Regions from separate parts of the Homo sapiens genome. Here region 2 is linked to region 1. Evidence: fine-mapped expression QTL. A gene starts in region 1. The other region holds a variant in brackets. All regions are shown on one strand. Distances are from middle to middle. Region 1 holds the start of COL6A6 (collagen type VI alpha 6 chain). Region 2 overlaps COL6A6 (collagen type VI alpha 6 chain).

Evidence for each region. PIP is the estimated chance that this variant, and not a neighbour inherited with it, causes the effect.
Region 2: its variant is the best candidate, but not a certain one, in a credible set for the expression of COL6A6 in lung (TOPMed, PIP 0.82).

The regions. Positions count from the first base shown.
Region 1 is chr3:130,514,799-130,519,198 of GRCh38, reverse strand. COL6A6 (collagen type VI alpha 6 chain) reads right to left here and starts at 2,022. Exons shown (of 37, transcript NM_001102608.3): 1 at 1,802-2,022.
Region 2 is chr3:130,592,247-130,596,646 of GRCh38, reverse strand. COL6A6 (collagen type VI alpha 6 chain) reads right to left here. Exons shown (of 37, transcript NM_001102608.3): 14 at 4,035-4,106; 15 at 3,925-3,951; 16 at 3,542-3,586; 17 at 3,395-3,448; 18 at 2,304-2,366. Among named protein-coding and RNA genes, the nearest start is that of COL6A6, 77 kb to the right of the region's middle. The variant C/T (reference allele first, on the strand shown) is at 2,272.

The DNA.
Region 1 (4,400 bases):
TACAACCTGATCTTCATTTGGTGACTTAATTAGATGCTCTTGATACTGTCTATACAAATAAATAAATATTTTCTGCAAAATATTCAAAATACTGAAACTTTCTGAAATTCAGACTATCTGAAGGGAATGGAAAAAATGAAAATTGCAAGTATTTATATTCAACAATAGTATTTCCGGAGAATTGGTTCACAAAAAATTTAGCAAAATTAAATTTTTTAAATTACTAAAATATAAAAGCCAAAGATGATTCTCCAATGAATGCTTAACCTAACATCTTTCATGAACATTATAAAATTTGATTTCACATGGCACAACATCCAAAACACACCTTCTTTTGAGGCACGGTATTTTTTTTCTCCTTCTTTTTCTCTCCTCTGCACTTCTAATATTTTGGAATAAAATGAGGGAGAAATTGCTGTAATCCCAGCACTTTGGGAGGCTGAGGCGGGCGGATCACCTAAGGTCAGGAGTTCGAGACCAACCTGACCAAAATGGAGAAACCCCGTCTCTACTAAAAATACAAAATTAGCCGGGCATGGTGGCTCATGCCTGTAATCCCAGCTACTCGCGAGGCTGAGGCAGGAGAATCGCTTGAACCCGGGAGGCGGAGGTTGCGATGAGCTGAGATGGCGCATTGCACTCCAGCCCCGGCAACAAGAGAGAAACTCCGTCTCAAAAAAAAGGAGAAATTAATTGACAACCTCTTTTATAAAGACAAGAACTATTAAGGCTGTGTATTTTAAAGAACATTATTTAGAAGTTTCAGGATTTTTATGTAAGTGACTTCCTCTATGAAGACACTGAACAATAAATTTAACATTGAACATTTTATATTAAAAATACTACTCATTAAATAGATTAGTTTAGAAAAAGTAACATGACTGCTGAATTCTGTAACTATAGAATTCTTAACAGAAAACTGCTGTTATCCTTCCTGCCACAAGTGTTAGGATTTTTACTGTCTCAGATATTCCTAATCACCGTCACCACCCCTCTCTCCTATCACCCCCACACCCATCCACTGGCAAAAGGTCCTCTTTAAATATATCCATAGAGTAGACTTTTAACAAGAGAATGAGAAATCCTTGTCACAAAAGGACAAAAAAGAAAAGAAAATCACTTCCTAGTTTTAACATTTTTTTTCCTCTTCCAGCCTGCCTCCTCTCCTCTTCAAAATTACTTGCATGGTTGATACTGAGCCAGGTAATTGGGGTTCCGCTCAGAGTAGAATGTTTCTGGGAATTGAGAAAAGGGTGCATTTTCTCTGCTTTCCTTCCTCCCCTCAGACAGCAGTAAAAGTCCAACCCTCTTTAATAAATTTGTGTGAAGTGCAAGAACAAAAGTACAGACTGGGAATGTACAGGCTTGGGAGTGACTTTTCCTGACTCACCCTGATTAACTCCATTCATTTGTTTCCGAGAGTGGTCCACTGTACATGCCACTCGCCAGGCCCTGTGCTGTGAGGACACAGTGTTGGGTGACGCACCTCTCAGGAGGCGCCCTGGTGCGCGGTGGGAGACGCGGAGATGGGAGCAGAGAATGACAAGAGTGTGCTGTAGGTTCTTCAACAGTCGGATGCGAAAAATTAAAAGAAAGACGAGGTGAGGGCAGTTACTCTTGTTTGGAGGAGGAGAAAAGCCAAAGGAGGAGTTTTTGAGCTTCTGAAATTCACTTATTTCCCTCCACCGCAGTCTTTCTCATGCAGCCTCCTCTATTCTGGCCGGTCCCTCCCATCCAACTACTGATCACTTGTAAACCTAGTTTTGGCTCTTGCTGTCCCAGCGTTGGCTCCTGGACTTACCTTGGGGAAACTTCCATGCAGCCCCCAGCCCTGCACTTCGAAAGCCCGGGGCGGATTTCCTCTGGACGCGCACTGCGCGGGCAGGGCGCACCGCGGGGAGCGCAGAGTTTGGTGCCGCCTGCGGCGCGCGGGGAGACGGTGGAGACCTCGGAACCGTGGAACGGACAGGCAGCGGCGTGGGCAGCCTCTTGACTCCGGTGTCCCGCAGGCAAGCGGGTGGCAGCTCCCACGCCCCTCGCCGACATATAAACGCTTCTCCCCGCCCCGGGCCCGACCCTTCCCCGCCCCGGCGGCCCCGGGCCCAGCGCACGTCCCCCAGGAGGGGGGCGCAGCCTTAGGGAGGTGACGGAAGCGGGACTGGAGACATTATGAAGGCTGTTACTGCTCCACCGGCTTCTCCCCTCTTGAAACTCCTACCCTAAGGTCCCGACCGTGGGAGAAAAGAAAGAGGGGAAGTTGGGGCTTTCATGGTACGCGCCTTCTCTGTACCCCAAAGATAGGCAGGGCGTGCAGATCCGAGGCGCACTGAAGGCAGTAGCTCTGCTCCTACCGTTGGAACTGTTGTTCTTTGGCGGCTTTGCCTGTATTCTGGGGTCTTCTGGCAGAAGGCAGGATCTAGCAAGGGAGCCAGAGAGAGTCTTTGGGTTGTAGAAACTCCTCCCTTTTCCGTGGGAACGAAGACCGTGAGATTAAGGTCCAGAGCCACCACCTCATCCCACCCTCAACGCCCCCTACCTCCCCAGTTTCCCTACTCTCTGGTCCGAATTCAGGAGTCCCAAGGAGAATATCCTTGACTCTTTGTCTACTGACCTTTTTCTCTTCTCGCTATCTGTCCATTCACTCATCTATCTATTTTTTGTTGTTGTTGATTCCACAAATATTTGAGCACCTACTATGCACTACTATCAGATGCTTGGGGTAAAAAAAAAACAGCAAAGTCGACACCTTAGCTCACAGTTTGGTTAGGGAGATAGACAAGGAAACAAAAAGCAGTGTGGCAATTGCTGAATGGGGAAATGATGCCATAGGAACCCAGAAGAGGGGATCCCAACTCAACCTTGGAAGGCCAAAAGAAGCTTCTCTGAGGTAATTAAGTCCAAACTGAAATCCAAAGATGGAGCTAGACAGAAAAGCATGGAAAAGAGGGTCTCAGGCAAATGGAAGAGCAGCAGGGAAGAGAGAGGGAGCACTGACTTCTCCAGAGTAGCCAAGTTTGTGTGATTTTTAAAATTTGATATTTGTTGTCATCCTAAGGTAAGAAAATTTTAAAGACAGGTAAACTTGTAGGTGGTGGAACTGGATCTGAATGCAAGCAGACTAACCATGGAGTGTGCATTTACCAGCTACTCCGTATGTAGTATGATGTGTCAACTTGGCAAATGACAAGTTAAAAAACAGATTATTCACCAAGGAGTGGGGATTGCTCTGGAGTCTGGGGCATGACTCAAGTCTCTACTGGACCACTCATCAACTGCAAATTTGGCCAGGTCCTTAACCACAGCTCTTTGTCAATGGAATGTAAATAGTAAAGATGCTTTCCAGTGTCCCTCGTTGAGTGTCCTGGATCATGAGGCTTCATGTTCTGGTCCAGAGACTTGGTGGAACAGCACCAGGACAGGTGTCTTCAATATGGTGATTCCTCCATGGACTCCTTGGCTTTGCACAAGGAAAGCTGGGAGAACACTGGAACAACAACAACAACAACAAAAGAATGAACATTAGAACGTCTCAAATTATTATTGCTTTTATCTAAAACAAGTAATTCAAATTTTCACATTCTTTTTAAAAATGCACTTAACACAAGTATCCTTTTCTCATTCCAGGGTCACTACTGAAGAGGCAGATGTGAATTCTGGGTGGCAGGGTTCCTAGCAATTTGCCAGTCCCCCACCCAAAACTACTTTTGAAAGTGTATATTTTAAAATAGCCAGAAGAGAAGATTTGAAAGTCCCTACCACAAAGAAATGATAAAATGCTTGAGGTGATAGATATACTAAATACCCTGACTTGATCATTATACATTCTATGCATGAATTAAAATATCATAAGTGCCCCATAAACACACACAAATATTATCTGTCAACTAAAAAAATTTTAAGTGTGCCATACATGCAAGCAAGGCTTATTCTTTGATAGCCCTATAGGAAATCTAGTCTGACAGAAAGGCTTCTGGAAGTCAAGAGCTTGTGACCCATGGCCCCGCCAGGACAAATAATCATGTCAGTCCAATGGGAAGGTTTGGCAGCACTGCCTTAATAACCAGCTGAATCCTTTTGACATATTGTTCTGAGACATCTAAAAACACTCTATCTGATGCCCTGGACCTTCTGATGTCCAAACCAGTTTTCACAACTGGATCATACTTGGATAAGCACCCCAAGAACTAGGCTTCCTTTTACCCAGCCTAAAGCAAAAAGACAGGGAAAGAAGAGGGTTCCTTGGGTTTTATAAATGCAGGTGGTTGCCTGAAGTGACTCCAGTTTTTCCCATTGTGCAACCCGTGATTTCTGGACCAGAGAAATAATGGGCAAGTAGCCAGTGCTCTTTGCTGTCTTTCTGGAGCTTTTTCAGGAACATCTGTAACTTAAGAAAAAGTGTG
Region 2 (4,400 bases), 77 kb before region 1:
ACTTCCATGTGATCATAAATCCTATCTGAATAAACTTAGGGTTTCAAAAATTAGCATCATTTACATGCTTTCCTAAGAATAAACTGATCATGTGTGTTCTATTTATTTATCCCCAATTTTTCCTGAAATAGTAATGCACTGAAGCCACATGTAAAAAAACAGAGTTGTTTTACAGTTGGAAGTCATAGAGCATTTCTTTTAAAATAGAAAGCTCTTTACATTATTCAGACTCTTTAAAATATGTTACACAATCACACGATCTTTAGCAGACAATTTAGGAGAAATTCTGATCAAAATCAGTGGAGGTTATATAGCAATGCCCCAAATGAATTTTTGGTCATCATATATGGATAACTGAAACGTCTTTGTATTTGAACTAATATTTCTAAGTTGTGCTTATATGTGGATAGTTCTTTGGTTCTAAATTAGATTCTTTGAAGTTGAAAATTCTCAGGACACCATTATCAGAAGATGTCACTTAGTCAACAATGTTTTCCTCATGCGCAAATTCCTCTGTTTTTAAATACAGTTGCCTAACATTTACATGTTCATATATATTGCATCAAATTCCTTCTCTGATCAACCCATTGTATACAAGAGGTTATATTAAAGAAAACAAAAATCCTCATGAGATTCCCAGGTGTCCCACATCCTTATCAGCACTTGGTATTGCTTTTTATAAATTGTAACCATTCTGATGAGTGTGTAATACCGTTCTCATACATTGCTAGTGGGAGTATAAATAAATACAAACTTTTGAAAACCATTTGACTGTAAAGACAATCTGAGTATGGCCATACACATTATAATCCAGAAATTCTACTCTTAAAATATAGACCCAATATAAATATGTAAAAAAGTGCATCAAAAGACATATATAAGAATATTCATAGCAGCACTACTTATAAAAGCAAAAACTGGGAGCAACCCACCTATCATTAGTATAACAAATAAATCATGGTATATTCACACAATGAAATACTATGCAATGCAGCCACGAAATTGAATGAACTATTGTTATACACAACATTGATTCATCTTACAAGTATAAAGCAAAAGAAGCCAGAAAAAAAGAGCAGACACTTATATGGTTCCATTTATATCAAGTTCTAGAACACATAAAACTAATTAATAGTGACAGGATAGTGATTACCTTGGGGGAAGGTGAGTAGTGGCTGCAGTGGGCATGAGGGGGCTTCTGAGATGCTGGTAATGTTCTATTTCTTTACCTGGTGGTGACTACACAGGTGTATTCACATTCATTAAGCTGTGTATTTATAACTCAGGGACTTTTCTGATGTATGTTACAGTTCAATAAACATTTTAAAACAAAGCTAAATCTTAATTCATTAAGGTTTTGGAGACTTACTTAAGTGTGGGTATGGTGATGAAAATCCTATAGTACTGATGTTCTATCGGACTTGGCATATTCCCTATATATTGGTATCTTTTTTTTTTTCTTTAACATGGGTCCTGCCTACTCAGCTGGGTTGTGCTCCTGCAAGGGCAGTGCCTTTATGTCATAAGTTTTGCCTAATATAATTCTACTTGGCCTGGGTTACAGGAAATGAGACTGATATTCTTGAGAAAAATTCTTGGAGAACTGATAGTGGTTTGGCTGTGTCTCCTCCCATATCTCATCTTGAATTGTAATAATCCCACATATCAACAGTGGGGCCAGGTGGAAATAATTGAATCATGGGGGTGGTTTCCCCCATACTGTTCTTGTGGTAGTGAGTAAGTCTCATGGGATCTGATGGTTTTATAAATGGAAGTTCCCCTGCACAAGCTCTCTTGCCTGCTGCCATATAAGACGTCCTTTTGCTCTTTCTTCATGATTGTGAGGGCACCTCAGCCATGTGGAACTATGAGTCAGTTAAACCTCTTTCCTCTATAAATTACCCAGACTCAGGTATGTCTTTATTAGCAATGTGAGAACAGACTAACACAAGAACAGAAAAAAAAGACATGGCTTTCTTTCTGTCATTGTGTTTGTATTTTGAGGTGCTTGGAAGATAATGAAGTGGACCAGAATTTCTTCATTGTTTTGAAGCACAAAAACAATTCTGAGTATGTATTTACAAAATTGCATTTGCAAAAGACATGTAAGGGCTTTTTACTGCTCATACTCATTCAGTATATGAAGAGGATCTAGCACAGGTACCTGAATTTAAAATGTTACAATCATGCCTGTGGTGTTTTAAACTCAGGGTTACTATTGTAGTACCTTGAAATCGAGACTCCCTATCAGAAGTACGGATGGGAATCAAG[C/T]CCTAACTCCAGTTTGCAGCCCGTGCACTTACGGGATCCCCTCGCAGGCCCTTTGCTCCACGGTCACCAGGAGTCCCTCTCTTCCCTGGGCTTCCCTAAAGTTAATACAAATCAGAAGAAAAACAAGACAAGAAGTTTTAATAAAATTAATAAAAACAGAGCTTTTCTTCTCCCTGGTGTGAATAATTAAATATTTTTCTACAAAGGCTATTTTTAAGCTGGAAAGATGAACAACCGAAAAAATTAGTTTCAAGCACCATATAAATAATTTAATAGTGAACTCAATTATTTGCCACAGTGGTGAACTCTGTGTTCCAGACACACTTGTCATCTTGTTTTTTACAAATATTCTATGAACCAGGTATTCCTTATTATCTTTCTTTTATAAGGCAACTGAGATTCAGAAAGAATATGCACTTTGCCCAAGATGGTTGTTTCTGACTCAATTGTTCACACTCTAAAGACAAAGTAGAGGATGAAAATATGGCTGCTGTTGGTATTTATTCTAGGTGGGCATGAGGGACATTCACTCTTCAATGTGCTGCCTGGCACCACTGACCCTTGTCAACACCCCACTTCTATTCTTACTATGGTAGTTGCTTGTCATTGATGGCCCCAGTTCTTCACCTCTCCCTATTCCTGTGTCCTTTGCCATGTAACTCTACAATGACTTCCAACTGTGGTGGGCAAGATTCCCTTCCTCTGAGTTTGGCAATATGCATTGATTTGGCCAACAGAAAGAGATGCAAGTGTTGAGAGAGTTCTGACCCTAGGTCTGAAGAAGACCTGAGAGTTCTAGTATGTTTCCACTTGCTTTCTTGTGCTTCTGCCATGGGCATAAAAAGGTCATGGCTAGCATGGTTAGGCTAGCTCCTGGTCCCAGGAGGGTAAGTGACAGATGGAGTAAAGCCCCCGGCCACCTTACAGACATGAGCCATGTCCAGCCTCAATCGGCTGAACCCCTCAGAAACATAAGAAATAAATGTTCATCGTTGTATGTGATTGAGGTTTTATGACTGTCACAAAACAGTTTTGTAGCAATAGCTGACTGAGTATTCTACTCTGTTAATCACACCCTTAATCCCCAGTACAATTTTTATGTTCTTCCTTTTCAAATCCCTACCTGAGATCCCTCATCTCCCTTTTCTCCTTTTCTTCCAGGAAGACCATTATCACCCTAAAAAACAAGAAGGGAAAGCTATTAATAGAATTCTCGTTTTCATAATGGTAAATAGCTCAGAAGGGTCTCTATGGTACAAGAAGGCTCTACCTGTTCTCCGTTTAATCCGTCAATTCCATTTTCCCCAACTTCTCCCTGAAAAGATAGATATGATTAGAACAGAGTACATCACGTGCATGTGTAAAGAAGTCAGATGCCAAACAAAAACTCTATTTTTGTGTTTCACATACAGCCTCCTTGTGAGGCTGGGCCTGGGTTATTAATATTAAAGGTTACTCAGTAATAGAAACTATCAACAAATAATATGTATTGCCTATAATGAAAGAGAAGAAGAAACAAAATGAAATGGCTGGCAATAAAAAAGGAAAGTCAATGACAACTTTATTTGTATAATTTACTGATAAATAATCTCAAAAATAAAAATATTTCTAGATAACATATGGGTAGGTAAATGGATGTGCCTGGTAACATACCTCCTGTCCATTTAGTCCTCTGTTTCCCTGAAAATAAAAGGACAGTTATAGTTAGTGTAGGAAAATGTAATTAATATTGAGAAAACTCCACACTCTTATGCAATCCTTACCTTAGGACCTTTGGTGCCATAGCATCCCTTAGTACCTTGCTCTCCCACTGGTCCAGGGGCTCCTCTTTCTCCCTGAGAAAGGGCACATATCCAAATGAGCTTTTTCTATTGTAATCTGAGATCTGTCTTGAAAACTTGACAAGTTTTTTGTTACCAAAAAAAGTGTGAATGCTCATGGTTCACAATCCAGAGTTCTTGCTTATAAAAACTAAGAGTAGAAATAAATCAGAGATACCCTGATGATAGACAGCCCTTTGCTTTGGATCCCACTTGCATACTGCCTGTGTGAGACTTCTCTCTCACCAAGTGGTCACCAAGTTACGTCCTTCCAACCTTCTTAACATATCTAGTCATACTGTCCTAAGC